Homo sapiens: one gene and its partners. The main gene of each other region encodes a partner of the protein of the gene in region 3 in a complex. Each region holds a gene or a part of one and is shown on either strand. Other genes may lie near its edges. The genes, in order: CORO2A, ZER1, TBL1X and GPS2.

What was found.
Region 1: TBL1X (region 3) and CORO2A share a complex: the UniProt entries of both Homo sapiens proteins name them as parts of the N-Cor repressor complex.
Region 2: TBL1X (region 3) and ZER1 share a complex: the UniProt entries of both Homo sapiens proteins name them as parts of the E3 ubiquitin ligase complex.
Region 4: TBL1X (region 3) and GPS2 share a complex: the UniProt entries of both Homo sapiens proteins name them as parts of the N-Cor repressor complex.

Annotation. Positions count from the first base shown.
Region 1 is NC_000009.12:98,189,627-98,196,737, forward strand, and holds the start of CORO2A (coronin-2A), read right to left. Parts: upstream 3,012-7,111; 5' UTR 2,933-3,011; intron 1-2,932.
Region 2 is NC_000009.12:128,768,919-128,776,589, forward strand, and holds the start of ZER1 (protein zer-1 homolog), read right to left. Parts: upstream 3,010-7,671; 5' UTR 2,663-3,009; exon of another isoform or gene 2,240-2,662; intron 1-2,239. UniProt on the Homo sapiens protein: Serves as substrate adapter subunit in the E3 ubiquitin ligase complex ZYG11B-CUL2-Elongin BC. Acts to target substrates bearing N-terminal degrons for proteasomal degradation with the first four residues of substrates being the key recognition elements.
Region 3 is NC_000023.11:9,460,269-9,468,057, forward strand, and holds the start of TBL1X (F-box-like/WD repeat-containing protein TBL1X), read left to right. Parts: upstream 1-4,789; 5' UTR 4,790-5,179; intron 5,180-7,789. UniProt on the Homo sapiens protein: F-box-like protein involved in the recruitment of the ubiquitin/19S proteasome complex to nuclear receptor-regulated transcription units. Plays an essential role in transcription activation mediated by nuclear receptors.
Region 4 is NC_000017.11:7,312,353-7,320,145, reverse strand, and holds GPS2 (G protein pathway suppressor 2), read left to right. Parts: upstream 1-4,785; 5' UTR 4,786-4,815; intron 4,816-5,026; 5' UTR 5,027-5,093; coding exon 5,094-5,187; intron 5,188-5,548; coding exon 5,549-5,658; intron 5,659-5,742; coding exon 5,743-5,855; intron 5,856-5,986; coding exon 5,987-6,066; intron 6,067-6,157; coding exon 6,158-6,240; intron 6,241-6,424; coding exon 6,425-6,578; intron 6,579-6,676; coding exon 6,677-6,766; intron 6,767-6,854; coding exon 6,855-6,934; intron 6,935-7,021; coding exon 7,022-7,117; intron 7,118-7,306; coding exon 7,307-7,390; 3' UTR 7,391-7,485; downstream 7,486-7,793. Other genes in the region: NEURL4 (neuralized-like protein 4), read left to right, coding at 938-1,096, 1,472-1,651, 1,790-1,877, 1,974-2,081, 2,214-2,358, 2,573-2,685, 2,776-2,941, 3,819-4,023. UniProt on the Homo sapiens protein: Key regulator of inflammation, lipid metabolism and mitochondrion homeostasis that acts by inhibiting the activity of the ubiquitin-conjugating enzyme UBE2N/Ubc13, thereby inhibiting 'Lys-63'-linked ubiquitination.

The DNA of each region.
Region 1 (7,111 bases), on a different chromosome or scaffold from region 3:
GATGGAGAAAGTGAGGTCCAGAGAGGGGAACGGATCGGCCCAAGGTCACACAGTAGGGAAGAGGAAGACTTCAATCTGGAATCTATGTCTGCTGACTTTAGTCTCATGGTCTTTCTTCTGGATTAAACTGTTTCTATGCTGGCCAGACTCCGGTAATGTAAGCTTCAGTGCCACTATTTTTTAAGCTGTATTTGTCAAATGAAATGTTTATTAAGCCTCAGATAAAACTGAACACTTCTTCACTAGACGGCAACTCCTTTATTTTTTTTTTTTTTTGAGATGGAGTCTCGCTCTGTCGCCCAGGCTGGAGTGCAGTGGCACAATCTCGGCTCACTGCCACCTCTGCCTCCCGGGTTCAAGTGATTCTCCTGCCTCAGCCTCCCGAGTAGCTGGGATTACAGGCATGTGCCACCACACCCAGCTAATTTTTATATTTTTAGTACAGACAGGATTTCATCATGTTGCCCAGGCTGGTCTCAAACTCTAGACCTCAGGTGATCCGCCCACCTTGGCCTCCTAAAGTGCTAGGATTACAGGCATGAGCCACTGTGCCTGGCCAGAAGACAACTTCTTACAAATAACAGCACTACATATGTCTCTCTCCCTAGTTACTTCCTTAGGATAAAGTCCCCAAAGTAGCCGGCTAAGGGCAAAGGGCAAATATGATCATTTTCATGATAACAGGCTGCCAGGTTGCTCTGCAAAATTAAATGCCACAGGCGAATCCCTATAGCCTTGCCAGCACAGAGTTTCATCTTTTTATTTTTATTTTTGCTAATTTTACAGGAATAAATACAGACTGCTTTCATTTATTATATGTTATGTGTTTTTTTGGAGAAAAAAAGGCACTCCAATCTTGGAATCAGGATCCCTGGGCTCGGTTGCTGGTTTGCTGTGTGACCTTTGCCCAGTCACATCCCCTCTGGCGACAGGGGATGCCTATCTGTAAAATGAGGGGGTTGAATGAGACGACGTCTGAAGGCTCCTTTCAGCTCAGACATTCCATGATTCCATGGTGCATTTAAAAAGTATTAGCAATTAAAGTCATAGCATGACTTTTTAATAACCAGAATCTGCCATGCTCCTAAATCAGGCCAAAAAGGCTTGAATTAGGCAAGCAGGAAAACAGGGCCCAGATTATACATGTGTCGAGATGACAGGAGACCCAGGTAGCACTTAAGCCTGTGCGTCGGAGCTGGGCTCATGGGCCAGCACATATACTTTGCCTGCTTTTACGAGGGGATAATAACACTCATTTGTGGTCCAGCTCCCAGTCCTGTGCAGCTCCACCATGGCCGCAGGGCAAGGTCATAGGCACTACTTCAGCCCTAGAATTCCATAGACTTTCAGTCCAAGGTAGCTCACCCCCAGGTTCTGCTTGAATACCTGTGATGACAAAGAGCTCACTACCTGTCCAGGGGCCTCCTGCCCTCTTTTGGCTGTTAAGAAAATCCCTGGGTGCAGGGCAGGTCATGAAGGGGACAAGAAAGACCAGGAGGCTGAGAAGTGATTCCTAGAAACTGCTCCCTCAAACAGGGCAGGCATCAGGGAGGTGGAGAAGAGGCCCCATGGGGCAGGAAAGGCCTGCAGAGGGGCTCCGGCTCTCCTCACTCCGGACCTCTCAGACGGTCCCCAGGAGGGGCAGGAAGCTGGGGAGACACATTCCAGTCCTGATGCACAGGTGGGTTCTGAACAAGCCCCAGGAAAGCGGAGGCCCCACAGCCTGCTCCAGGGCAGACACCTCGGCTCCCTCTTCTTGCCTTGGCTCCCTGGGATCTGATGGGAGAAACTGCTGGGCCTGGGGCTGCTGGGTCTGGAGATGAGCATATTTAAGGGACCTGACCACTGCCCCAGGGTGAGGGAGGAAGGGTCAGAGGTTGTTTGTGTGTCCAGAGCAGGACCAGCAGGAGAGGCAGTGACTGGGTAGCAGATTCCAGCTTGGTTTACAACTAGTGAGATTCCTATCACAAGGAGTGTGCAAGGGGGCAGCAAGACCTTCCAGAGGGGATCTTACAGAGGGGCTGGGCCAGATGCCATAGGTCTTCTTTACCTAGGGAGCCTGGGACCACAGTCCCTCAGACCTGTGCTCTGCCCCATCCCTTAATGCCACGCGGACACAGCACCTTGGCACTGTCACCCCTCTGAGGTCCAGGCGTGGCCGCCAGTCACCCCTTGTCACACCAGCTAGTGTGTGTCACACCTTATCACACACTAGCTCTGGGACACAGAGCTAGGCACCAGCACCTGGCCCGGGTGGGGAAGGGGAAGGAGCTATCCTATACCACTCTCTAAATCGAGGTGCCTACGTGGGGCTGGTCCAGGCAGTCGTGCCGCCAGGAGTCCAGCCACCTCCAACCTAGGGCTCCTCCAGCCCCAGACGAGTAAACCCTCTTGGCGGGCCGGCTGATGCCCCACATGCACGCCCAGGCCGGCTTGGCGGGGACCCGGGGATGCCCCCCACCCCACCGTTTCCTGTACCAGGAAGCTGAGGCCCAGCAGGTAACGCAGCCAAGAGGGGGAGGGTCCCGACAAGAGTCCCATGGAGCACCCGGGCCACAGCAGGGGCCTGTCGGGACCGGCTGGCCGCGCCCAGAGTGAGCTTCCCTCACCGCGGGCAGGAGGGGTGGGCGGTGCAGACAGTGCTCATGAGGGCAGCGAGCCGTCGGGAGCCCGGACCTCGAGGCGGCCCCTCCCAACAACCCCGCGAGAAGGGGGCCACCAATGAGCAAGCTATCCTGACGGGGAAACTGAGGCCTGGAGAGGAGCAGTGCTTTGTGCAAGGTCACGCAAAGGGGCTGAAAGCCAGGTCCCCCGCGCTCCGAGCCCCGCATCCCTCCCTCTCCGGGAGCTGCAGCCGCAGCGCGCACGTCCCGCCCGACGCCCCCATCGCGCAGACCGGGAAGGCACGGCCGGCGGCGCAGGGCCGCCCTACCTTGATGACTGCCGCGCAGGTGGCGGTGGCGGCGGCGGCGTCCAGCTCCGGCTCCGCGCTCCTCGCCGCCCGCCGACTCCCGGCGCCCAGAGCCGCCGCCGCCTCCCCCTGCAGCCCGGCGGGCGGGGCCGGAGGGCGGGGCGGGGGCCTGGCCCAAGGTCCGCCCTTTTGCCCGCCCCGCGGGTCCGCCCTGGCCACCCTTTTCCGCCCCCACGACCCCGACCGCGCTCCTGGCTCCCCGGGGCGGGTCTCGGGGCGCGCACACGTGCTGGGAACAGGCGCGCACACGCCGCAGTGATTGGGGCGGGCTGCCGGCCACCAGGCGGAGGCTGGGGACAGGCAGAGCCGCGGGCCCCACGTCGCGCCGTGCCCTCGCTGCGTGGTGTGGGATGAGGAACCTGACCTCCCGGAGCCTCAGTTTCCCCCGTTGTGAAATGGAGACAGTAACCGCGTCGGCCTCTTAAGGCTGTTTGAGCCCTGGATGTGACGATCCCGGCCGGGTACAGTGCGCGCGCCGAGCCCGGCCAGGGAAGCGCTCCTTTCCCCGAGCAGTTACAGCGGTTACCGAGGCTTCCCCGTCCGCAGGGAGGAGAGGAGCCGGGAGCGCCGCTGGGAACCGAGGAGGACGCCCTTCCTTCTCTCGGGACCAGCCGGGGGCGCTGCTGCCAGCCTCGCTGGCTGGAGAGCCCTGAGGACACTAGACAATGGGGAGGCCCTACCTTTGGGTACCACCCCCACCTAACACTACTGAGCCACGCACTCCTCTAAGCGCCTTCTGTGCATTACCTCGCTTCACTGTCACACAGGCCTATGAGGTTGATACCATTACTCACCTATTTAACACAAAAGAGCTGAGGCACAGAGATATTAAGTACCTAGGTTAAGATCACCCGGCTAGTCATGCAACCCCAGGCAGTATGGCTCCCACGGCTACTAAGCTAACAGCCACTCCACTCCACACCACGTCTGTGAAGAGCTCTTGGTTTTGTTCAGTAGAGACGGGTTATCTTGAGGGCCTTGAACTGCTCCGTGGCACATAGTAACCACTCAATATATAGTTGTGGAGTGGATAACAGAGTACACTGTTACTACTTTACATATCTGTATCGTTTCTTCTAAGCTTCTAATAATAGTGGCTTTATTTAGCCACTATTATTACCTCCATTTTACAGATAAGAAAACTGAGGCTTGGAGTGGCAAGGTACTTAGGGAGCTCTTGATTCTCTCCTTAGAATGTGACTCAGCTTCCATAGTCCACTGTACCACCCCCCTGCCCAGAGCTGGACGGGCTCCCTGCCTACCACCCAAAGCCCAGTGTGCACTATGGTCCTGAAAACCCCATCCTACAGCTCTGATTCAGACCTTCTGGAGCTGGATTGCCCAGCAGGTAGACTGAACGCATGCTTCTGGTGTTAGCGTGCAAGAGTTGGGTATCAAGCATATGGATGGCTGGGCGCAGTGGCTCATGCTTGTAATCCCAGCACTTTGGGAGGCCAAGGCAGGTGGATTGCTTGAGCTCAAGAGTTCAAGACCAGCCTGGCCAACATGGTGAAAACCTGTCTCTACTAAAAATACAAAAATTAGCCGGGCGTGGTGGCATGTGCCTATAGTTCCAGCTACTTGGGAAGCTGAGGCAGGATAATCACTTGAACCTAGGAGGTGGAGGTGGCAGTGAGCCGAGATCACATCACTGCACTCCAGCCTGGGCTACAGAGTGGGACTCTGTCTCAAACAAACAAACAAACAAACAAACATATGGATGAAATCAGAACATTGTGGGAATTCTTTATAATCATGGTTTGGTTTTTACTTGAATTACAGCTGGACGGTGGGCACCATGATCTTTCCCAGGCTAAGGCATCTGAATAACTTTGTTGTTGTTGTTTTTGCATGGTTTTGTTCTGTCGCCCAGGCTGGAGTGCAGTGGCACAATCCTAGCTTGCTGCAGCCTCCACCACACAAGCTCAAGCAATCCTCCCACCTCAGCCTCCCGAATGGCTAGAACTACAGGTGCGTGCCACCATGCCCAGCCAATTTTTATATTTTTTGTAGAGATAGGGTTTCGCCACGTTGCTCAGGCTGGTCTCCAACTCCTGGGCTCAAGCAATCTGCCTGCCTTGGCCTCCCAAAGTGCTGGGATTACAGGTGCGTGCCACCACGCCTGGCCTTGAATGTCTTAATTCACTTAGGGCTTGGGCCAGCATCTCTGGTGTGGCTTTCTACCTCTGCCAATGCCACTCGCCTTGCACTCTGACATCTCTGAGCCTTTGCTCTGTCTGCAGTTCTCTTCCCAAATCATCATCTCCCTTGTCTAAACCCACTCATCCTTCCAGGCCTAGCCTTCCTAGATGTCCTATGGATGTGCCCTCCAAGGCTTGCACCTGCATCTTCCTACCCTGTGCCATGGTGGTTGGTGGCTGGGACTGTTTGGGGAACAGCTGGTTTGACAGAGACATCTCTGGGGGCTGTGGGCATATGGACCCATAAGCCAGAGGGAGACCTCTGCAATGAACCTGGGACCCTTCCTGGGGTTGCTGTGGCTGGGGAGTGTCCTCCTCTCTTGCCCCTTCCCTCCCTCTAATCCTGGTCCAGATGCAGGATTGCACACATGGGGAAACTGAGGCCACAGTGGGCATGACCTACGCAGGATCCCCTAGCTAGAAAACCACATAGCAGATCTGGTTCCAAAGTTGGGCCCATCTCCTGGCATCTTCTATTAGGCCTTAGTGTGGATTGGGATGGGCCAGGAAACCTCCCTCTTCCTTCCCAGTGCACCCACATGGCTGGCTTTGTTAATCTTCCATATGTGGGTAAACATCTTGTGCAGGACCAGAACATATGTGTGTGTGTGGTGGGGGTGGGGGGCAAGTTCTCCATCTATCTGCCCCACATGGAACTTTCTGTACGATATGGCCCCATGTCCATGGGGGAGGGGGTTGAGAAAGAATGAGGAGACAGTGCCTGGGGGTTGGGGAGGGGTCTGTGTTTGGAGGATAGTAGCCTTGAACACGGGCAATCTCTGGAAGTGAGTGAGCACCTCTTATGTTAGGGGTTGTTGGGAGGGGGGCCTTCCACCTCCTTTGACCCAGTCCCTTTATTCTTAGGGATGTTGCCCCAGGGAGGTTCCCTGGGTAATTCCCTTTTCCTCTCCTTTAGAGCAGGTCGGACCACAGCTTGCTGGGGGCCTAAGGCCTGGGGAAGGCATGCTTTGAGCATGAGGTCCTGTCCCCTAGGGTGGGAAGGTGGGGCTGAGAGGGATCGGATCCTCCAGCCCTGGAAGGCAGCAGCCCCAGGGGAAGGGGGCAACAGCTGTGGTGCGGGCCAGGAACCTGACACCAGGAGTGGGCCCCAAACACCCTCCAGAAAGAGCAGGGAAGGGCAAGCAGGCGCCCCAGGGGCAGCAACAGCAGGCACAGATGCTCTGGGGTGGGCCCACCAGTCCCTGCTCAGCCTCCTTGCCATGTGGGTATCATGCTTCTCTTGTTGTCTCTGATGAAGGGGAGAAATAGTGCTACAATCCCAGCGTGAGGCAACCATGAGGAAATTCTTCCTCTAGTTTTCCTTGGCTTAGAACTATCTTCTGAGGGTATCCCCAGGAGGCCACAGGCCAGGCATGCCCCTTCCCTAGGTCCTTGGGGAAGGTGTTCTAGGTTCCACAGGTGGGTTAAGCTGGGGGAGTCCTCCCTGGCTTTGCAGTAAGGGCTCTAGGCTTGAGCATGGCTCAACCAGTGGCTGTGTCACTTTGGATAGGTTAGCTAATGTCTCTGAGCCCTGTCTACTCGTTGGTAACCTGAGCTTGGCCTGGGTGAGTTGATGCTGCAGGACAAGCAGTTCTCAATCCCAGCTCCCTGTCAGGGCCTGAGGAGGCAGTTAGCCCTGTGTCCCGTGTCCTGTGTCCCCAACCCTTCCATGTATCAGAATGCCTGGGCTCCACCACAGGCTCCAGGCATAGGACCCTAGCACCAACATTTTTAAAAAACTACTCAGGTGATTCTTTTTTTTTTTTTTTTTTTTGTGACAGAGTTTCGCTCTTGTTGCCCAAGCTGGAATGCAATGGCACGACCTCAGCTCCACGCAACCGCCACCTCCCAGGTTCAAGTGATTCTCCTGCCTCAGCCTCCCGAGTAGCTGGGATTACAGGTGCCCACCACCATGCCTGGCTAATTTTTTGTATGTTTA
Region 2 (7,671 bases), on a different chromosome or scaffold from region 3:
GTAGAATGGAAATTTGCTGGGCTCATTTTAATTCTTTTTTTTTTAGAGATAGGGTTTCCCTATGTTCTCCAGACTGGTCTCAAACTCCTGGCCTCAAGCGATCCTCCCAAAGCGCTGGCAGTGCTGGGCTCTTTTTTAAAAGTCCCCATCACCCTCCGCTGCTGTCAGAAAAGCCAGGACCAAGCTAACGTCTTCTCTGCAGAATATTAACCCAGTTACCTCTGAGGGGTGTCAAGAAGTTTCTGTCTTGCTTTCCCCAATATTTCCTCAAATCCTACTAGTTGATGGAGGCAGCTAGAGCTGGTGACACCACCAGCTAGTGCTAAAACGAACGGCTCTGAGGCAGACATACATGCCCACATTCCTCATCATCACATCATCCTCATCAGCGTGACCGCTATGTATTGAGCACTTTGTGTGAAATACTGCATTAAGCACTTCAGCCCATGATTTTATCTAATCCAACAGCCCTATTTTCTTTTCTTTTCTTTCTTTCTTTTTTTTTTTTTGAGATGGAGTTTCGCTCCTGTCGCCCAGGCTGGAGTGCTGCAGTGGCATGATCTCAGCTCACTTCAACCTCCACCTCCCAGGTTCAAGCGATTCTCCTGCCTCAGCCTCTCCAGTAGCTGAGATTACAGGCATGCGTCACCACACCCGGCTAATTTTTGTATTTTTAGTAGAGATGGGGTTTCACCATGTTGGCCAGGCTGGTCTCGAACTCCTGACCTCAGGTGATCCACCTGCCTCCCAAAGTGCTGGGATTACAGGTGTGAGCCACCACACCCAGCCTGCTGTATTTTCCAGATGAGAAGATTGAGGTGGAAAAAGGTCCCGTGCCCACCTTCTCACAACCAGGAAGCAGCGGCATAACTTAACTTGATTTAATCGCAGTTCTCTGTGACCATGATTCTTTGTATTTGTTCCATCAATGGTCATTACAAAGATGGAAGAAGGGTACTTACAACCGAAGCCCCAAGCACAATGGCCATTTGTCATCTAAAACAAATCTGTATTTTCTCCAACCACCAGACACTTCAACAAGTACGGTTCTGAAAGGGTGTCCCATTAGACACCCTGTGACCCTGTATCACAAGGACAGCCCCTGATGTCTTCCCCACCTTTTTCTGGTCCCCACTGTTCTCTGACTTTCTTGCCAACCACTCTTCCCTTTCTTCAACCTGCTCCAGTCCCCCATCCTCCCACTGTTTCTTTCTTTTTTTTGAGACAGAGTCTCACTCTTGTCACCCAGGCTGGAATGCAATGGGCACAATCTCGGCTCACTGCAACCTCCACCTCTCAGGTTCAAATAATTCTCCTGCCTCAGCCTCCTGAGTAACTTGGATTACAGACATGAGCCACCACGGCCAGCTAATTTTTTTTTTGGTACTTTTAGTAGAGATGGGGTTTCACCATGTCGGCCAGGCTGGTCTTGAACTCCTGACCTCAGGTGATCCGGCTGCCTCAGCCTCCCAAAGTGCTGGGATTACAAGCGTGAGCCCTTATGCTGTTTCTTCAAATCACCAGGCATATGACCACAGGACCTTTGCATTTGCTGCGGAATGCTCTGCCACAAGAGAACTACCTGGCTTGCTCCCTCACTTATCTCTGCTCAAAGGTCACCTTACTAGAGACCTTCCCTGAACACCCTCTATAAAATGACAACTCCCAACTCCTTCCCCATGGTCCTTCCTTCTCTATTTTTCTCCAAACCACTTATTACCTCCTTACATATCATGTTTATTATTTGCTGAATGAACAAATGAACCAAAGTAGCGAGGCCCTTCACCCCTGGCCACCACTTTCTGCTCTAAGTATAGCCTCCCGTGACCCTTTTCAAGGCTATGCTTTTATGCTCATCCTAACCAGTTTGAAGTCTGAAGAGAAACATTCTGTGAAAGATCATATATGGAAGGATTTTCCCAAGACATCAGACATTCCATTCCCCTCCCCCTTAAAAATCAAATGCACTAGCTGAGCGCGGTGGCTCATGCCTGTATTTCCAGCACTTTTGGAGGCTGGAGCGGGCGGATCACTTGAGCCCAGGAGTTCGAGACCAGCTTGGGTAACATAGTGAGACCCCATCTCTATTTAAAGAAAAACAAAACAAAACAAAACGAATGGACTGACAAACACAGGCAAAGACTGGAAATCTTGGGCTCTTTCGGTCAAAGAGCAGCCAAGACAAGTTCCACCCAGAGAGCTATAGTGGCCAGCACAGTCAGTTTCACTATCAACTCACCTGTCGGGCTCCCTTGGCCCTCCGGTTGCAACCTCACCCTGTTGGATTTCCCTATACTTTGTGTCATCCCTTTTGGGAGCTGATCCAGAATCCAAGTCGTCCTTGAGCTTCTAAGCACTTCTCTGGGGGAACTTAAGCTCATCCAACAGGTAGGAGGGGCAGAGGGTGGCCCTTTCAGCCCTACACCGATCCCCCATCTTGTAGGGGCAAACGACAGAGCGTCATTTTCTTTCTGGAGGAAGGGAGCTCAGTTTTAAAGACACGATTCTCAGACCTGGCGGCAGGGATAGAGAAAGGAACCCTCCCACCACTGGCGGAGATGGACCTCAGAGAGTGGTTGCAGCGGCGATGCTTAGGCCCCGTAGGCAGGAGGCGAAGGAGGAGGACGCAGGTACGTCCCTTGGCCCGGGGTCCGGGACCTACCCTGGACGGGGCTGCCCTCAGCGTCGGGAAGCGGACGTGATGCTTCGCAGGCGAGGAGGAGCAGAGAATGCAGCCCGGGAGAATCCGGGGCCAGAGCACCTCAGGAGGTTGGGGATCTCGTCAGGCTAGAGCCGGGGTCCAGGGGAGACGGGGGTCGGCGGGGCGGAGCTTGGGATCCCGGGGACGGGAGCTCCGGGAGGGAGGGGGTCGCGACGGGGACCCCGTGGCGGTTACCTTGCCCTTAGGGCTGCCGGCGGGGCTGAGGCTCCTGGGCCCGGCCCCTCCCCCGATCCGGCTCCTACGGCTCGGAGCCTGCAGCCGCCGCCGCCTCCGCTGTCAACAAACCCGGGGCGCGTCACTTCCGGGGCCGCCCCTTAGCAACAGCGATCGGGTTCCCCCGACCCGTCCCGCGGCTAACGCGGGCGGCGGCGGCAGAAGGTTCCGGGGACCGGCGGGCGGCTCCTTTCCCCGGGCCCGGCACGTTACGCCGGTGGAGGAAGCCGCGGGATGCCCCCCCCAGGCCACCCGAGAGAACGCGTCATTCAGGGCTCTCCCTGGCCTCCGAGGGGCCTGTTCGTGGGACCCTAGGATCGGTGCCCGCCCTGGCGCTGCGGTTCACCTGAGCCCAACACTGCTGAATAGCAGGACTGACTCTGGGCGCCAGCCCCCTCCATCCAGCGCCCTGTTGAACATGTCTTGCGTTCTCCACGGGTGGCTCACACTCGCGTGTCAACCCGCAGTCATCACCGTCCCCCAAAAGGTGCTCCTAACCTCCATCTAGGGCATGCGCCACCAGGCAACCGAGCTTCCAAATGGGAAATTGGGCGGCGACCTCGGCCCCTACATTTTCCTGGGCCCCTCGTCCAGTCTCCAAGTCCTAAGGATCCTGTCAAACCAGTTCCTTCTGGCCGAGCGCAGTGGCTCACGCCTGTAATCCCAGCACTTTGGGAGGCCGAGGCACGCGGATCACCTGAGGTCAAGAGTTCGAGACCAGCCTGGCCAACATGGTGAAACGCCGTCTTTACTAAAAATACAAAAATTAGCCGAGCGTGGTGGTGCGCGCCTCTAATCCCAGCTACTCAGGAGACTGAAGCAGGAGAATCGTTTGAACCCAGGAGGCAGAGCTTGCAGTAAGCTGAGATCGCACCACTGCACTCCAGCCTGGGCGACAGAGGAAGACTCCATCTCAAAACACCATCATTTCTTCTCTGGATTTCTCTTTTTTTTTTTTTTTTTTGAGAGACGGAGTTTCTCTCTCTTGTTGCCCAGGCTGGCGGGCAATGGCCCTCAGCTCACTGCAGACTCCCCGGGTTCAAGCAATTCTCCTGCCTCAGCCTCCAAGTAGCTGGGATTACAGGCGCCTACTATCACGTCTGGCTAATTTTTGTATTTTTAGTAGAGATGGGGTTTCGCCATGTTGGGCAGGCTGGTCTCAAACTCTTGACCTCAGGTGATGCGCCCACCTCAGCCTCCCAAAGTGCTGGGATTACAGGCGTGAGCTACCACACCCTAGCTAGATGCTCCTTTCTTGAGGAACCCTTTCTTGACAGGTGCCTCAGTTCCATTCCAAGAACTAATTTTGTGGATTTCTTTTTTCTTGCATAGCACCTTTTAATCTTTGACCAGCTACAACTATGTTCGTACAGTCTTGAATCCTTAAAAAAGCTGTTGGGCTTGGCACAGTGACTCACAACCTATAATCTCAGCAGATGGGGTTGTCGAGGCTGAGGCTTGAGCCCAGGAGTTGGAGATCAGCCTGGGCAACATAGGGAGACCCCATTTCTACAAAAATTAGCAGGGCATGGTGGTGCGCATCTGTAGTCCCAGCTACTCGGGAGGCTGAAGTTGGAGGATTGCTTGAGCCCAGGAGGTGGGGAGGTACGGTTTTATGCTCCTTAAGATGGACATCATCAGAGAGACAATAACAAATGTTGACGAGGATATGGCTAGATGGGAACTCTCATATTAATACATTGCTTGGGCCAGGCGTCGTGGCTCAAGCCTGTTATATCAGCACTTTGGAAGGCCAAGGCAGGCAGATCACGAGGTCAAGAGTTTGAGACCAGCCTGGCCAACATGGTGAAACCCCGTCTCTACTAAAAATACAAAAATTAGCTGGGCATAGTGGCGCACGCCTGTAATCCCAGCTACTTGGGAACTTGGGAGACTGAGGTAGGAGAATCGCTTGAACCTGGGAGGCAGAGTTTGCAGTGAGCCAAGATTGTGCCATTGCACTCCAGCCAGGGCAACAGGAGTGAAACTCTGTTTCACAAGAAAAAAAAAAAAAGCCCGGTTTGGTGGCTCACGCCTGTAATCCCAGCACTTTGGGAGGCTGAGGTGGCCTGATTGCCTGAGCTCAGCAGTTCGAGAACAGCCTGGGCAACACGGTGAAACCCTGTCTTTACTAAAATAAAAAATTTTAAAAAATTATCCAGGTGTGGCAGCATGTGCCTATAGTCCCAGCCACTCTGGAGGCTGAGGCAGGAGAATTGCTTAAACCCTGGGGGCGGAGGTTGCAGTGAACGGAGATCACGCCGCTGCACGCCAGCCTGGGCAACACTGTGAGACTCTGTCTCAAACAAAAGAAAAAGAAAGAAAACAGAAAACAAATAGGAAATAAGAAACAAATAACAGGCCAGGCGCGGTGGCTCATGCCTGTAGTCCCAGCACTTTGGGAGGCCGAGGCGGGCAGATCACGAGGTCAGGAGACCGAGACCATCCTGGCTAACATGGTGAAACCCGGTCTCTACTAAAAATACAAAAAAATTAGCCGGGTGTGGTGGCAGGCGCCTGTAGTCCCAGCTACTCGGGAGGCTGAGGCAGGAGAATGGTGTGAACCTGGGAGGCGGAGCTTGCAGGGAGCCGAGATGGCGCCACTACACTCCAGCCTGGGCAACAGAGCGAGACTCCGTCTCAAAAAAAAAAAAAAAAAAAAAGAAACAAATAGCAAAATGGGCTTAGATTAAACCAGGAAAATAATCATAGTGAATGTAAGGGTCTAAACACTTTAAGTAAAAGGCAGAGTTTGTCACATTGCATAGAAAAGCAAGCCCCAGGCTCATGCCTGTAATCCCAGCACTTTGGGAGGCTCAGGTGGGCGGATCACTTGAGGCCAGGAGTTTGAGACAAGATGGACAACATAGTGAAACACTGTCTCTACTAAAAATACAAAAAAAAAAAAAAAAAAATTAGCCAGGCGTAGTGGCATTTGCCTGTAGTCCCAGGTACTTGGGAGGCTGAGGCCAGACTGGGTGACAGAGCAAGACTCTGTCTCAAAAAAAAAAAAAGAAAGTAGGAAGGAAGGAAAGAGAGAGAGAGAGAAAGAGGGAAAGAGAGAAAGACAAGAAAGGAAAAAAAGAGAGAGAAAGAAAGAAAGAAGGGAAGGAAGGAAAGAGGGAAAGAGAGAAGGAAAGAAAAAGAAAGAAAGAAAGAAAAAGAAAGAAAGGAGGAGAAGAAGAAGAAGAGAGAGAGGGAAGGAGGGAGGAAGGAAGGAAGGGAAAGAAGGAAGGAGAGAGAGAGGAAAAGAGAGAAAGAAAAGAAGAAGGAAGAGAGAGAGAAAGAAAAAAGAGAGAGAGAGAAAGAAAGAAAAAAGAAAAGAGCGAGCTGGGCAGAGCAGCTCACACTTGTAATCCCAGCACTTTGGGAGGCTGAGGCGGGCAGATCACCTGAGGTCAGGAGTTCACGACCATCCTGACCAACATGGAGAAAACCCATCTCTACTAAAAATACAAAATTAGCCGGGCGTGGCGGCGCATGCCTGTAATCCCAGCTACTCAGGAGGCTGAGGTAGGAGAATTTCTTGAACCCGGGAAGTGGAGGTTGCAGTGCGCTGAGATGGCATCATTGCATTCCAGCCTGGGCAACAAGAACGAAATTCCATCTCAAAAAAAAAAAAAAATGGCTGGGCACAGTGGCTCATGCCTTCATGCCTGTAATCCCAGCACTTTGGGAGGCCGAGGCTGGTGGATCATGAGGTCAAGAGATCAAGACCATCCCTGGCCAATGTGGTGATACCCTGTCTCTACTAAAAATACAAAAATTAGCTGGGTGTGGTGGTGCATGCCTGTAGTTCTAGCTACTTGGGAGGCTAGGGCAGGAGAATCACTTGAACCCAGAAGGCAGAGTTTGTGGTTAGCCAAGATGGCGCCAATGCACTTCAGCCTGGGCAACATGAGCGAAACTCCATCTCAAAAAAAAAAAAAAAAAGAAAGAAAGAAAGAAAAGAAAGAAAGAAAGAAAGACAAGCTCTCACTTTGGGAGGCTAAAGTGGGAGGGTCACTTGAATCCAGGAGTTTGAGACGAGCAAGGGAAATATAGTGAGATCCTGTCTCTACAAAAAATTTAAAAATTAGTGAGGTATGGTGGCATATGCCTGTAGTCCCAGCTACTCAGGAGGATCTCTTGAACCCAGAGGGTTGAGGCTTTAGTAAGTCATGATGGTGCACTGCACTCCAGCCTGGGTGACAGAAGGAGACCCTGCCTCTAAAATTTTTACTTTTAAAAAAGCAAGCCCCAACAAAATGCTGCCTATAATAAGCCCACTTTAAATGTAAAGACAGAAATAGGTTCAAAGTAAGAGGCTGAAAAAAGATATAGTTTCGATATAGCAAGCCAAATTCAGCAGCATATTAAAATAGCAATATACTATGACCAAGTGAGATGTGGGAATGGGATTTATTGTTGGAATTCAAGGATGGTTCAACGTATGAAAATCAAGTACTGTAGGCTGGGCTCAGTGGCTTATGCCTGTAATCCCAGCAATTTGGGAGCCTGAGGCGGGCAGATCACCTGAGGTCAGGAATTTGAGACTAGCCTGGTCAATATGGTGAAACCCCGTCTCTACTAAAAATACAAAAATTAGCCAAGCATGGTGGCAGGTGGCTGTAGTCCCAGCTACTCAGGAGGCCCAGGCAGAAGAATCGCTTGAACCTGGGAGGTGGAGGTTGCAGTGCGCTGAGATCAAGCCACTGCACTCCAGCCTGGGTGACAGAGCAAGACTCCATCTCAAA
Region 3 (7,789 bases):
TTTTCTTTCTTTCTTTCTTTCTTTCTTTTTTAAGAGACAGAGTCTTGCTCTGTCACCTAGGCTGGAGTGCAGTGGCACGGTTATAGCTCACTGCAGCCTTGAACTCCTAGGCTCAACTGTTCCTCCTGCCTCAGCCTCCCAAGTAAGTAGCTGGGACTACAAGCTCAGATCACCATACCCAGCTAATTTTTTTATTTTTGTTTTTTGTAGAGATGGGATCTCACTGTGTTGTCCAAGCCGGTCTTGAACTCCTGGGCTCAAGTGATTCTCCTGCCTCAGCCTTCCAAAATGCTAGGATTACAGGTGTGAGCCACAGCATTTGGCACAGTGTTTCTTTTTTAAAAAAAAATAAATAATAGGCTTTTTTTTAAGAAGAGCTTTAGATTTGCAGAACAACTGAGCCGATAGTGCAGAGTTACATGTTTCTCTCCCCAGCTTCCAGTGTTATTAACATCTTAAGTTAGTGTGGTACATTTGTAACAACTAAGGAGCCAGTATTCATATATTATTATTAATTAAAGTCCATAGTTACATGAGGGTTTCCTCTTTGTGTTGTACATTTTGTGAATTTTGACAAATATATATACACACACACACTTATATGTATAATAACGTGTATCCACCATCATAGTATTACACAGAATAGTTTCACCACTGTAAAAACCCACTGTGTTCCACCCATTCATCCCTTCTTCCTCCTTGAACCCCTGGCAACCACTGATCTTATTGTTGTCTTATCTGTTTCCCCTTTTCCAGAATGTCATATGGTTGGAATCATACAGTATATGGCCTTTTCAGACTGGCTTCTTTCACTTAGCAATAGGCATTTAAGGTTCCTTTGTGTGTTTTGGGGGCTTGATAACCCATTTCTTTGTAGTGCTGAGTAATATTCCATTATGCGGGTGAGCCACAGTTTGTTTATCCATTCGCCCAGTGAAGGATACTTTGGTTGCTTCCAGTGTTTGGTGATTACGAGTAAAGGTGCCATAAACCTCTGTGTGCAGGTTTTTGGAGCACGTAAGTTTTCAGCTTAGTTAGGTAAATACCTAGGGGCACAACGGCTGACTGTATGGTAAGACTCTGTTTGGCTTTGTAGGAAATTGCCGAACTGTCTTCTGAAGTAGCTGTACAATTGTGCATTCCCATTAGCAACAAATGAGAGTTGCTGTTGTTCTGCATCCTGTCAGCATCTGGGATTGTCAGTTTTCTGGATTTTAGCCATTCTAATGTATGTAGTAGTATCTCATTGTTACTTTAACTTGCAATTCCCTAATGATATATGATGTTCAGCATCTTTTCATATGCTTACTTGCCATCTGTATATCTCTTTGATGAGTTTTTTTCTGATCGTTTGCTCTTTGATTCAGTTGTTTATTTTCTCATCGTGGAGTTTTAAGAAATATGTATATATATATACACATACATATACACATATGTACATATATCTGTACACGCACACACACACACACACACACACACACACACACACTCTAAAAAAAAATTAGAGACAAGGTCTTCTCTGTCGCCCAGGCTGGAGTGCAGTGGTGAGATCACAGCTCACAGCAGCCTCAACAGGTGTGAGCCACTATGCTGGCCTGCATATTTCAAATACAATCCTTAATCAGATATGGAATTTGCAAATATTTCCTCCCATTCTGTGACTTGTCTTCTCATTCTCTTAACAGTGTCTTTTGTAGACTTTTCAAATTTTAGTGATGCCCAACTTACCAATTTTTTTTTCTTTTACGCATCATGCTTTTGGTGTTCTAGCTACACAGTCATTACCAAACCCAAGGTCATCTAGATTTTCTATGTTATCTTCTAAGAGTTTTTATAGTTTTGCCTTTTACATTTGGGGGTATGTTCTATTTTAAGTTAATTTTTGTGAAAGATAAAAAGCCTAGTTTTTTTTTTTTTTTTGGCATATGGGTGTCCAGTTGTTCCAGCACCACTTGTTAAAAAGGATGAATTGCCTTTGCTCCTTTGTGAAAGATTAGTTAAGTATATTTGTGTGAATTCCTACTGCCTTTTAATTAAAATTTTGGGTACTGTTTATGGGGAATGCTGGTAGTATTTGTTGCAAGCAGATTCTTGTTTTCCCCTCCCTCCAGTCAATAACTGAAAATAAGTGTTTGCAACACACACACGCGCACACACGCACATGGCTAGTGCAGTGGGTTTCTGTGTAAATCACTGTGGACCCCTCGCCCTGTTATCCTTTAGCTTTCTCAGAATACACTACCTCCTTGCCGCTCTACTTTATTTCCTTGTTTTCTCCCACCTTATAGGACTGCACATTTGAAAAATCGTTGAAACAGATTAAATAACACAGTCTAATTATCACCCACCTACAGTCCATCTAGTATTTCAAAAAGAGGAATTTTGGTGATTTCACGATAAATGTAGGCGGTCTCTCTTCCTGTCTTAGGTCTTACAGTGTCCTTTGGGGTCCTGTGAGTCTATGATAAAAGATATTGACTCTTTACGGGTAATAAGGGTGGTGGGATTATGGGGATATTGTCAAACAGTCAAGATGAATTCTCAGCTCTTTTGCATTGTCAATTACAGGAGCTCAGCTGTAAATCCTGGCCACACTGGGCTCCAGTTTGAAAGTGAGGATTTCCACCACTTTCCCATACTTTAAAAGACTGGCATCTGCCAAGTAATCAAAACACACAAAGAGGCCTTTTAACCAAGTTTAGCTTGGAATTTCCAACTGCTAACCACAAGCAGGTCTGGCAAGCTAGGAGGCTGGTTGGCTGCGCAGCTACTCCAGAGTGTGCGGTAGCCGAGGGCTGCGTCCGCGTAAAGCCCAGAGCTGTAATGATGTCAACTTGTTATTTACTTTCCAAATCTGAATGACTGAGCAAGGCGAAAGGAGAATCAATCAACCACAATGTGACCCTACAGGCGGAAAAAACGCAGCACTCCCACCAGCAGGCGGTGGGGGAAGGGAAGCACGTGTAGCCAGGGCAGGGTTGCATCATGAGCTCGTTCGGGTTTTCTATTGCACCCTTCGTTTTTCTATTGCATGTAATACCTCAGCATCAGTCTGCACAAGCCCAGGGAGCCCAGGAGCAACGAAGGGCAGGCTCAAGGGAAGGCCCCACCATGTCCTTCTGGGGGGCCTTGAATGGCAACTGATACATAATAAGACACAATCTATTCTGCTGATTCACAATTATGGAGACTGTGTAAGTGTGTATTTTTTTATTGATGTCCTCTAATGATGGTGTAGCAACAGTCGTTTTGCATCATTGACGTTTTACAGCAATATTTTGCAGGGTAATTTTGAGGTCCGCCGTTTTGGTGGAGGACCGGCCTCTTAAAAACTCACCTCCGGCCGGGCACGGTGGCTCACGCCTGTAATCCCAGCACTTTGGGAGGCCGAGGCCGGCGGATTGCCTGAGGTCAGGAGTTCAGACCAGTCTGGCCAATATGGTGAAACCCCGTCTCTACTAAAAATACAAAAAAAATTAGCTGGGCGTGGTGGCATGCGCCTGTAATCCCAGCTACTCGGGAGGCTGAGGCAGGGGAATTGCTTGAACCAGGGTGGTGGAGGTTGCAATGAGCCGACAGCGCGCCACTGCACTCCAGCTTGGGCGACAGAGCGAGACTCCTCAGAAAAACAAAAACAAAAACAAAAAAACAAAAACCTCACCTTAGGTCCCCCTCCCCCTACAACCAGAACAACAAATGGTCTAGAGTTCGAGGAAGAGCAAGTGAGGTTATAGTTTAGATTGCTGAGTGTACCGGGCTCTTAGCACGAAGCTCATTATATAGTAAAGGAAGGGGCAAGAATATTTGAAAAATATTCAACGAGGCTGACCCCAGAGGTGCTGGGGAGGGGGAGTGGAGATCTGTTTAACTGAATTAAGGCTGCGAGTGGTTGGGAGTAGCCTACGTGGAGGGGAGGAAGGAGCGCTGGGGACTTAGGTACACCGGGGCCAGGCCGTGTAAGCCATTGCAACATAAAGCACTTTGCAAGGGCCAGAGGGCTGATGCCTGGGGGGTTGGGGTGGGAGTGATGAGGCCCGAGTGCCCAGGTCCCCCCAACCTCCTCAGCCCCCACACCCGAGTTCCTGGCGCCTATGCCTGTGTGTCTGAGTTTGTCCCTAAGCATTTCTGGCTCTTCTTGGGAGGTGTTTTGCAAAGGTCGAGGCTCCGCCGGAACCCCCACTTTTTGAGCTGGGGTAAAGACTACTGGGGTGTCTTCTAAGACGCCGATTTTGAGGGAGATTCACCATCGGGCAGGTGGCAGGGGGTTCTGTTGGGGCAGCCGGGTGGCTTCCTTTTTGGGGTGGGGGAGGGTAACACTTTAGCAGTGATCGAGGTTCCCCTGCCCCCTAGAAACTGAGGGGGTGGCCGAGGTTCCCGTCCCCTCGAGGCAGTCGTGGAAAGGCTGGGTTTGGGATGTGATGGGGGTAGCCCTGGGGTCCTCTCAGTCCCACGGAGGCCACGGGGAAGGGACCGGGACCAGAGCAACTAGGGAGAGGCCCGGGTTCCCCTCACCCACCCTAGGCGTGGGGGAGCGGGGCGGGCTTGGTAGGGACGCTGGTCCCCCGACCGTGGGACAGGGGCTGGGTTGGGACGCGGGTCCCCACTAGGAGCCGCGGGGGAGGGGCAGGGCCGGAGTCCCTACCCTCGTAGGGGAGGGGCTGGTTCGGGACGCGGCTCCCCCGGGGCGCAGGGGCGGGGCCGGGTGGTACGCCGGGTCCCCTCCCACGGCCGTGAGGGAGGGGCCGGCGGCGGGGGCGGACCCCTGGCGGTCCTCCTGGCTGGGGTCCGCGCGCTCGCGGCAGCTCCCCGTGGAGGTCACTGTCCGTGCCAGTCCCTCCCGCTGTCCCGCCCTCTCCCGCTGCCGCCGCCGCCGCCGCCGCGCCCGCCTCAGCGCCCCCACTCCGCGCTTGGGAGCGAGGAGCCGCCAGCGCCCCCGCCCCGCCGCCGCCGCAGCGCCCTCAGGCCGCCATTCGCCACCGAAACTTTCCAGCGCCCGCGCTCTCTCCGGGACTCGGCGGCGGCGGGGCGGGGGCGGCCCGGGGGCGGCGCGCGGCTGCTCCGGGGCGCCGGGCCCTCTTCGGCCGCCGCACGGCCGGGACTCGGAGGCTGCCGGCTGGAGGGAGGTTCGGAGCGCGGCCGGGCGCGCGGCGCCGCCACAAGTTGCGCTGCTCGCGACGAGGTGAGTGCGCAGGGCTCGGCGGGCCGGGCGCGGGGTCCGCAAACTTCTGCGGGGAGGCGGGTCCCGCGCTGACCCTCCAGGGTCCGGCCGGCGGCTCGGGGCGCCCGAACGCTCCACCCGCCCCTGGAACTCCTGTAGGTGCAGGTCGCCAACTGTCCCCGCGGCGCTCGGACTGGGGTGCGGCGCGCTCCCAGGAGCCTGAACAATACCCCGAGGTGGCCGCTCCCCGAAGTGCCGGCGCGCCTTGCGGGGAGAGACGGAGGTCGGCGGGGGGCTCCTTTGTTTTGGGGAGGGGGAAGTGGCCGGTAAGTTTAGGGAAGCGCTCGGCTTTTCCTCCGGTGCCCCTTTGTCTGCCGATTCAGGGGCTTGCTGGGCAAACCTGCGCCACCGCGGGCTCCGGGGACCGGGGTGGAGGGCGGTGGCGGGATTTCCCCGCTGTTGGGGAGAAGAGCCCCATTCATACCCGGGACGCGGGCCGGCCCTCCCGGACCCGGGTGGAAGCGCAGCCTCGCGGAGTGGGGCAAGCGGCGGGCGAGGTGGCGCGGGCCCCGTGTCTGCTCAGTTTCTGACGCGCAGAAACTGTCAAGGAAGTCGGGAGCCCCAGTCCTCCGCCCATCTCCCCGGCCTGAGCGCACGGCTGGGCTGGGGGCACCCTTGGCCCGTCGAGGGTCTGCAGAGCGCCGCCCGGGGAGAGCGCAGACCTGTTGCTGCTCCTGGGCTCTGACGGGGCGGGTGGGGTGGGTCTCGCAGATCCTGGGCCCCGGCCTTGCTATCCAGGGGGACCTTCCCTAACGATGGGACCGGTGCTCGGAGTGGAGTATGGGGAGTGCGCCTTCGGGAGTCGGCGCTGGCCGGATATGTGACAACTGTGGGTCGCTGGAGGCCCGCCTGCGCTGGGATAGGGCCTGGACTTCACGTGCGTCGCCTGTGTTCCGTCAGACCGGGGCCGGGGCTCGCTCCCTGCAAGGCCTCGTGTTCCCCCAGCCAGCTGCGTTGGACGTTCCACAAAGGTAGGGACTGACGTTTATTCTCGAGTCAGTGATGTTCTGGAGCAAAACCTAAAAAGAAACAAAAACCTACCCTCTATTGTATTTGCAACTGTTTCTGCTTTGCATTGTCATGTGTGGTTTGACCTGCCTTTTGGATGTTTTCCTCTCCTGAAACATCGCCCAGTCCCTGGTTTAACCTGGAAGGCGAGGGGGAAGGAAGGCAACCTCCCTGCTAAGGTTCCAGGCAGTGGCTTTGGTGTTGGAAGTGGCACTTGACGATTTTATGAAAAGTTTACAAGTCCTTCCTAGAAAAGATGTAATTAGGAAAAATAAAATACAGAAGAACGTTGAGTATGACGCGTTTATTTTAAAGGGTAGTCCTGTCTCAAATGTGCTGCACATTTTTGTGGAAAGCCACCAAGCTGGGTAACTAATGCAAACAACAAAAGTTGTTCATCACTGGATCACCGGCCCTTAAGGCGATTCCAGCCCTTAGTAGAACACACACCTGTAGGGCAAATATGGAGATTTGTGGTGTAGTGCTGCCACCCTCGCTCCCCAACTCTCAGGCATTTTGCCCCTTTACCTCAGAGAACTTCTCTCTGTCAGTGGTTTTAAAGAGGAAACAGTTTGCAAAAATAACTTTATTGTAGACATACTTAGAAGTGAATGTTTCAATTTCTGGAGTTTTCCCATCAATTATATCAGTACCACTGGTTCTGTACAACATCATCTTAGTTAGAAGATTTTTTTTCACCTTTTAAGGTGACGAACAGAGGCGGGAAAATGGTCCCTGCAGAGGGAGGCCATCTCCAGCAGGTCCCGAGGGTCAGGAATTCAGATTATCCGATCTACTCCTGCTGGATAGGAGCACACCTCCGCTAGAACCTGGGTCCGGCCCCCTCCCAGTTTTCTGCAGGGCGTCCAGATTCCGGTGCTCTGCCCCGCAGCAGTGCCCTGTGGGCCTCCTGGCTTAGCTGATCAGCACAGCTTCTCTGCCCAGCGAGGCAGGACCATCCTCCCACTGCTTTCCTGATGCCTTGGATTTGCTTTTTTTCCTCCCTTAGGAAAAGCAAAAAAACCTAATATGCTACATCCGAGAAGTTGTTAATCTTTCACTACCACATGCATTGAAAAATCAGTTCCACCCAGGAAGCAACACTAAAGGCATATTGTAAACACTTTTTTTTTTTTAGTTGGAAAGATAAACTTTTTTCCCCCATAACTATTTTTAGTTAGCCGGAGACTGGACTCGAGTTTTTACCTCCGGTCTTGCCCCCTCCACTCCCGCCCTCACTTTCTGTGGGGCTCGACCACATGGACCATGCTGGCCAGACTGGCAAACATGAAACCCACCAGAACCAAAAGAAAAGCTGGATATGGGAAGGGGCCGAAGAAGTCCACATGTTTCTAAAGGGCAAAGAGCCTAGGCTGAGGAGAGACGTTTCAGATCTCCAGGGGAGAAAGACAGCCGTTAAGGAGTCCGCCGGGCTGCTGCCTGCCTGGCCAGCGGGAGCCTGACTTCAGATGCCTGCGCCTCCCAAGCTGGCCCCCTCCCACACAGCCATCGCCATCCAGTATTTAGGGAGAATCCACCGCATGCCTGAAGGTTGCAGAAGTG
Region 4 (7,793 bases), on a different chromosome or scaffold from region 3:
AAAAAAAAGAAAAAAAGGCCAGGCTCAGTGGCTCATGCCTGTAATCGCAACACTTTGGAAGGCCGAGGCGGGCAGATCACGAGATCAGGAGATCAAGACCATCCTGGCTAACACGGTGAAACCCCGTCTCTACTAAAAAATACAAAAAATTAGCCGGGCGTGGTGGCGGGCGCCTGTAGTCCCAGCTACTCGGGAGGCTGAGGCAGGAGAATGGCTTGAACCCAGGAGGCGGAGCTTGCAGTGAGCCGAGATCGCACCGCTGCACTCCAGCCTGGGCAACAGAGCGAGACTCCGTCTCAATAAAAAAAAAGAAAGGAAAAGAAAACTAGCTAGGTGAAGGAAGTCCTAGGAATAAGAATCCTTAGAGATCCTTACAGAGGCAACAGCAAGGTCAAGGCTCAAACAGCATGTTTTTTTTTTGTTTTTTTGTTTTTTTGTTTTTTTTGAGACGGAGTTTAGCTCTTGTCGCCCAGGCTAGAGTGCAATGGTATGATCTCGGCTCACCGCAACCTCCACCTCCCGGGTTCAAGCGATTCTTCTGCCTCAGCCTCCCAAGTAGCTGGGACTACAGGCATATGACACTACGCCCGGCTAATTTTGTATTTTTAGTAGAGACGGAGTTTCACCATGTTGGTCAGGCTGGTCTCAAACTCCTGACCTCAGGTGATCCACCCACCTCAGCCTCCCAAAGTGCTGGGATTACAGTGTGGGTCACCATGCCCGGCTGGCGGTTCTTTTTTTTAAAAAAAAAAAAAAAAAAAAAAAAAAAAAGAGGGAAAGAAACAACTAAATTAGCGTTTTCTGGTCCTTCCAAGCATAAGAAAAGGCAGCATCCCAGGCCACATTCTGGGAGGTGCAGTATTCCCTCTCTGGCTGGGGTGCGGAGCCTGGTTCTTCCCAGGAGGCTGTGATTATGGAGTAGTTCTTTCTTCCCCAGGTGCGGATAGATTTCCTAAACCGACAGTGGACATCTTCCCTTGTCCTGGGAGTCATCACCTGCGCGCCTGAGAGGCTCAACTTCCCTGCTTCTGCCTGTGCCCTCAAACGGGCAGCCTGGCTGCTGCGGGGCCGTGGGGTCTTCCACAACGGTCTCAAGGTGAGTAGGAGCCAGAGAGAAGGAACAGGACCAGGCCTGTGAGTAGAGAAGGGCTGGCCAGAAGGGAGAAGTGGGCCCCTAGCCTTGGAGGTAGGACCACAGGTGTAAAAGGGGAACAGTAATGGGCAGGCAAGGGCGAGTAGCATTGCCTGGTCAGTCTTAGGCCTGCTGCTTCCTGCGGTGTCCCTGCCATTGAGAATGTGCCAGTTTTGGGGAAGGGGAGGGGCTCTAGGTAACTGCAGTGGGAGGAGAACCTCGGCAGTGGGCAAGCATGGAGGCAAAGCCAAGGCACTGGCAAAAGGAAGCAGAGCAAAGGGCGGGACAGCTGCCGCGGTGGAGTCTGACCTCTGGAAGACAGCCGGTCTCTCCTCCCAGATCTGCGAGAAGTTTGGGCCCAATCTGGACACGTGCCCTGAAGGCACCATCCTGGGACTGCGGCTGGACAGCTCTGGGGGGCTGCATCTTCATGTTAATGGGGTGGACCAGGGGGTAGCTGTGCCAGATGTGCCCCAGCCCTGCCATGCGCTTGTGGACCTCTATGGGCAGTGTGAGCAGGTTAGTGGCAGTGGGGGCAGGGAGGAGGGGTGCCTGAGAGTCTGCGCTGTCCAGGACAGGGGAAATCTCTGTTCCAGGGAGGGATCAGCAGGCCCTGGGGTCTGACCAAGCTCTGTCTGACTACCCTCTCCCCTGCAGGTGACAATCGTGAACCCTGAGCCAGGGGCTGCCAGTGGGAAAAGTGCTGGAACCCAAGGGGACATGGAGAAAGCAGACATGGTGGACGGTGTGCCAGCCCAAAGGGACCCAGCTCCTGCCCCTACTCCCCCACCCTCACCCTTCTAGCCCAGCTCCTGTGACCTGTGCCCCTCTGCTCCCTCAGGTATCAAAGAGAGTGTGTGCTGGGGTCCACCACCTGCCGCTAGTCCTCTAAAGAGCTGCGAGTACCATGCCCTTTGCTCTCGCTTCCAAGAACTCCTGCTGCTTCCCGGTGAGTCCCACAGTCCGCCAGAACTGACTTCATTCCCAGGGCCAGGCCTAGAGCCTTGGAGAGCAGCTGGAGGGTGCCACTGTGGTTGAGGTGGGAGCCACAGCACCAAGCCTGCTACTCACTGTCCCGCAGAAGATTATTTCATGCCTCCGCCAAAGCGAAGCCTGTGCTACTGTGAGTCTTGCCGGAAGCTGCGAGGAGACGAGGCCCACAGGCGCAGAGGGGAGCCTCCCCGGGAATATGCACTGCCCTTTGGCTGGTGCAGGTTCAACCTCAGGTACATATGGGCAAGGTCATGCCTTTCCCCTACTGTTTTCCCCCTGGAGAAACGGGGATCCCAAGAGGGTGCATGGAAGAAGTAATAGAACTTCCTGTCTAAGGAAAAGCCAGGAAGTGCCAGGGACTTCCTGTCTAAGGAAGAGCCTCGTGAAGCTCCTCCACTGGGGAGTCAGTGGCCTTCGTTGTATCTGCCCCGCTTGTCCACCTCCTAGAGTGAATCCCCGCCTGGAGGCTGGGACACTAACCAAGAAGTGGCACATGGCATATCACGGGAGCAATGTTGCCGCTGTACGGAGAGTGCTGGACCGAGGGGAGCTGGGAGCAGGTACTGGCGAGTAGGCCCATGCAAGGTGGGCTGAGCCTGGGGGGCTGTGGAGGAATAAAAAGGGCTATCCTGACCCAGTTCTCCTCCCAGGTACTGCCTCCATCCTGAGCTGCCGTCCTTTGAAGGGAGAACCTGGGGTAGGGTTCGAGGAGCCTGGCGAGAACTGTGCACCTCCTCGGGAGGAGCAGCCCCCTCCTGTGCTGCTTTCCCCCTCCCTTCAATATGCTGGGGCGGAGACCCTGGCCTCCAAAGTGCAGTGAGTACTGGGAGGGGTGGGGAGAGATTTCCAGGGGCTCGGATGGAGAGGGCCCAAGCGCAGCCACTGGGGTCTTCATGATTCGCCCTCCCCTTTTCTCATCTCGTCTTGCTAGCTGCCAGTCTCCAACTCAGCCCTTTCTTCATTCATTGAACAAATACTACTTATATACTCTTCTAGTGGGCAAAAAAAGGAACCTTGCTCTTGTGGAACTTCTGCCTTTTCTCTCTACAATGTTCATACGTAATAAGTATTATTTATTTATTTATTTTTATTTTTATTTTTTTTGAGACGGAGTCCTGCTCTGTCACCCAGGCTGGAGTGCAGTGGCGTGATCTCACTGCAACCTCCACCTCCTGGGTTCAAGCGATTCTCCTGCCTCAGCCTCCTGAGTAGCTGGGACTACAGGCACGCACCACCAAGCCCGGATAATTTTTGTATTTTTAGTAGAGACGGGGTTTCGCCATGTTGGCCAGGATGGTCTCGATCTCCTGACCTCGTGATCCGCCCACCTCGGCCTCCCAAAGGGCTGGGACAGGCGTGAGCCACCGCGCCCCGCCAGTATTTAGTATTTTTAAAGGTAATAAGTAAGGACTATGGAAACAGAGAAAGAATGGGGCGGAGACAGCAGTGCGGTTGGTGTGGACATCCTAAGAAGGTGGGAGAGATTCGAGCAAAGGCTTGAAGAAGGAAGTGAAGGGTGTAGCTGAGCAGGCTTTGGGAGGAAGAGCATTTCAGGTAGAACAGCTAGAGCGAAGTTCCCATAAGGTGGGAGTATTTCCTAGGTACAGCAAGGCTTGTGTGGTTGGAACAGACTTTGCAAGGGGGAGGTGATGGGGCGAGAGGCTTCACTCCCTTATTTTTTCTTGTCTGACAGATTCCGGGACCCCAAATCCCAGCGGACGCACCAGGCTCAGGTGGCGTTCCAGGTGTGTGTGCGCCCTGGCTCCTACACCCCGGGACCCCCTTCCGCTGCCCTTGGAGAACCTCCTGACCCTCACTTCAGTCCAGCCGAACTTGAGTGGGTCACTAAGGAGAAGGGGGCCACACTCCTCTGTGCCCTGCTGGTACGGGTGGAATGAGGGGTGAGACACCACTACTACAAGCACAGTCGGGCCGCGGGCCCATGGACTCTGAGTGGCGACTGCCTCCACCTCATTCCCGTGACTCGTGGCATGCGCAGGTGCTGGAGCTTGGCAGCCGCGCAGGAGCATGTAGGCAGGCTCTCAGATGTAGGTGGCAAGTGGCACAGCTCCATGTCCGGAGGCCCAGCACTCCGTCTGATGGGAGGAGTCGTGGGAGCCCAGCTCCAGGCCCTGGTACCCCTCTTCATGCACTGATTTGGGGAACATGACTCCCTTTTACTCCCCTACCCCACATCACTTAATTTATTTCCGTTTTTGTTTCTGGTTACTGTGAATCCCAGAGGAGTCTCTCCCTGTGCCCACATGAAGCTGCTTTTTCCGGGGCCACCGGGCGGGAGTGGGGAAGGGTGGGCGCACGGAAGATGGGGGCCTCTGTACAGTTGTTACTGACTCTGATTTCTAAGGAGCCAATAAACACCGTCTCAGAGCCTCCGCCTCGGCCTCTCTCTCGCGCGCCCCTCTCCGGAGCCCGCGTCCCCTGGGGTGCCACCAGGTGGGCCCGCGAAATTAAAGAGAGCTGAGGATGCCAAGGCCAGTCTGCAGCCGTCGTCGCTCACGTTCCCGGCGACGGGGTTTGTACGCCGCGGGCACCCGTCGCAGCGCGCTTCCGCCTTCTTTCACCTGTGAGGTCGGCCGCCGCCGTGACTCCGGAAGGACTCGGCCGGGCCGCCGGATGTGACGCAGGGGCCAGGGCGCGTCGGAGCCGCTGAGAAAGCGCAGAGAAGGCGGGTAGGAAGGGCAGTCGTCCGCGCTGGCTGGGCAGGGAGCGGCAGCAGCGAGCCGGGGACCCCGGCGCCGCCCGCGCGCGGTGGGACTGGGGCTGCGGTCCCGGCCGGGTGGCGGGCTCCTGGGACACGTGACCGGGGCGGCGAGCGGGCCGGGCGGACGGGCTTCCGCCTGGGCCGGGCGCGGCCCCCTCTGAGCGCCCGCCTCCCCGCAGGCCCCGTCTGAGGTCTGGCAGTCAGAGACAGCCGGGCGCCCACGGCCCGAGCGCCCACGGCAGCACCATGCCCGCACTCCTGGAGCGCCCCAAGCTTTCCAACGCCATGGCCAGGGCGCTGCACCGGCACATTATGATGGAGCGGGAGCGCAAGCGGCAGGGTGAGCCGGGGCCATAGCAGGGGGACGCACGGCCCAGAATGGCTCCTGTACCTCAAGGCTGGCCTCAACCCACCGGCCAACCAGCGCGCCCGCTGCCGAGCGCAGAGGAGGGAAGGAATAGCCCCGTTGTGGTGGGATTTAAGCGTCCTGTTCCACGCTCCAGAACCCTTGAGATGGGAAGGACCTTGGAGAGCACCTGATAAAGCCTTTCCGTTCCCTATTGCCGCGATGGGGAGCTTGTCCCCTCGAGGCAAAGAGCATACAGGCGTGTTGGGATGACTGGGTTTTGCTGGTCTTCAATCTGTAACGTTGGAATTGTTTTCACTACCCTGCCTCTTCTTCATTCTGCCTGATTCTCCAGAGGAAGAAGAGGTGGATAAGATGATGGAACAGAAGATGAAGGAAGAACAGGAGAGAAGGAAGAAAAAGGAGATGGAAGAGAGAATGTCATTAGAGGAGACCAAGGAACAAGTAAGCAGTCCCTTGAACTTTCCCAGCTTTGATTTCTTCGTTTGACTCTCCCTGCCTTCATCTTCTTTTCCCACCCCATCCCAGATTCTGAAGTTGGAGGAGAAGCTTTTGGCTCTACAGGAAGAGAAGCACCAGCTTTTCCTGCAGCTCAAGAAAGTTTTACATGAGGAAGAAAAACGGAGGCGAAAGGAACAGAGGTGGGATCAGAGTGCTAAAAACTGAAATGGGGGCCAAGTGGAACTGGGATCAGGTAGTAAAAGAACCAGTGTTTAATGGCAAAAGAGAAGGCATCTGTCCTTGACTTTGACCTGTCTTCCTTTCACTCCAGTGACCTGACCACCCTAACATCAGCTGCATACCAGCAGAGCCTGACTGTTCACACAGGAACTCATCTCCTCAGCATGCAGGGTGAGGACTAAAGAAACCACCAGATGGAACCGGCCTTCTTGGAGGTCACAGCCTCCCATTTCAGCATCATGAAGCCCTTCTCCCTTTCTAGGGAGCCCTGGAGGACACAATCGCCCAGGCACCCTCATGGCAGCTGACAGAGCCAAACAAATGTTTGGACCCCAAGTGCTTACGGTGAGAGTAGGATTGGATGCCTAGCCCCTAGTACTTCCATCCATGCATCCTTGCCACCAGTATTCAAGTCACAAACATATCAAGCACTTAAGTTTAGGGGGAAACGGGGCATACAGATACACACAAGTCACTGGGTTTCAGCTTTCAAGGAGTTTGTAGGCGAGTTCTCATTCTCCTTCCTTAGACCCGGCACTACGTGGGCTCAGCAGCTGCTTTTGCAGGGACACCAGAGCATGGACAATTCCAAGGCAGTCCTGGTGGTGCCTATGGGACTGCTCAGCCCCCACCTCACTATGGGCCCACACAGCCAGCTTATAGTCCTAGTCAGCAGCTCAGAGGTGAGTAATAGGAGGGATGGGGCTTGGCCTTCCTCAAGGTCAAAGGAGGAATGCCATTCAGTAAAAGATTTTAATGGCTCTGTCTTTTCCTTTCTCAGCTCCTTCGGCATTCCCTGCAGTGCAGTACCTATCTCAGCCACAGCCACAGCCCTATGCTGTGCATGGCCACTTTCAGCCCACTCAGACAGGTGATAACATCCCATGCAGGAGCTCTAGCTCTCAGGTCCTCCCCTCCCTGTTTCATTCTCATCTCACATGCCCCTCTTCCCCACCTAGGTTTCCTCCAGCCTGGTGGTGCCCTGTCCTTGCAAAAGCAGATGGAACATGCTAACCAGCAGACTGGCTTCTCCGACTCAGTGAGTATGGCACCTTGGGAGGTCAGGGTTAGGGATATGTTAAGGGGAGCTTCAGTATGCCTCAGGCCCTGACTCTGTTCTCTGCAGTCCTCTCTGCGCCCCATGCACCCCCAGGCTCTGCATCCAGCCCCTGGACTCCTTGCTTCCCCCCAGCTCCCTGTGCAGATGCAGCCAGCAGGAAAGGTAAGAATGGTAATAGAATTTACCTGTCAGAATCCCTACACTAGGGATCCGGAAAAGCAGGATTAGGTAGGACAGGTGGCCCACATCATCTGGTTTTTCCTTCCTCTTTGGGGGTGGTTATCAGTAGGGTATTAAGTGGAAGGGAGAGTATGCCCAGTGACAAAGCCCTCTTTTCATCACCACCACCAGTCGGGCTTTGCAGCTACCAGCCAACCTGGCCCTCGGCTCCCCTTCATCCAACACAGCCAGAACCCGCGATTCTACCACAAGTGACCATCAGATTATATCTTCAACACCACACCCCCCACCCCATCGTGGGTGAGGGTATCCCCTGTGTGTCCCAGGCCAATAAAATCTACCTGCCACTGCCCCTGGCTGCTGCTGTTTGTGTTGCCTCCCACCCAACTGTCTGGAATAGGTCAAGGTTGCTTGGAGGGTGGGGGGATGGCTGGCAGGTCCACAGCAAGTCAAAGTGATAGACAGCGGGTTCCAGTGAACTCAGTGGCAGAGTTCAGTCTTTTTGTGGCTTCCAAATACACCCATTTAATTCAAATAAGCAGCTGAGTTGGGGGCTTCATATTAAACTTGTAGTTTTATTCAGGTTTGATTTTAACAAATGTGTCGGGGAGAGAGCCCGCAGGGAAGGGTAAAGCCCATGGGGGCAGGGCCCTCCCAG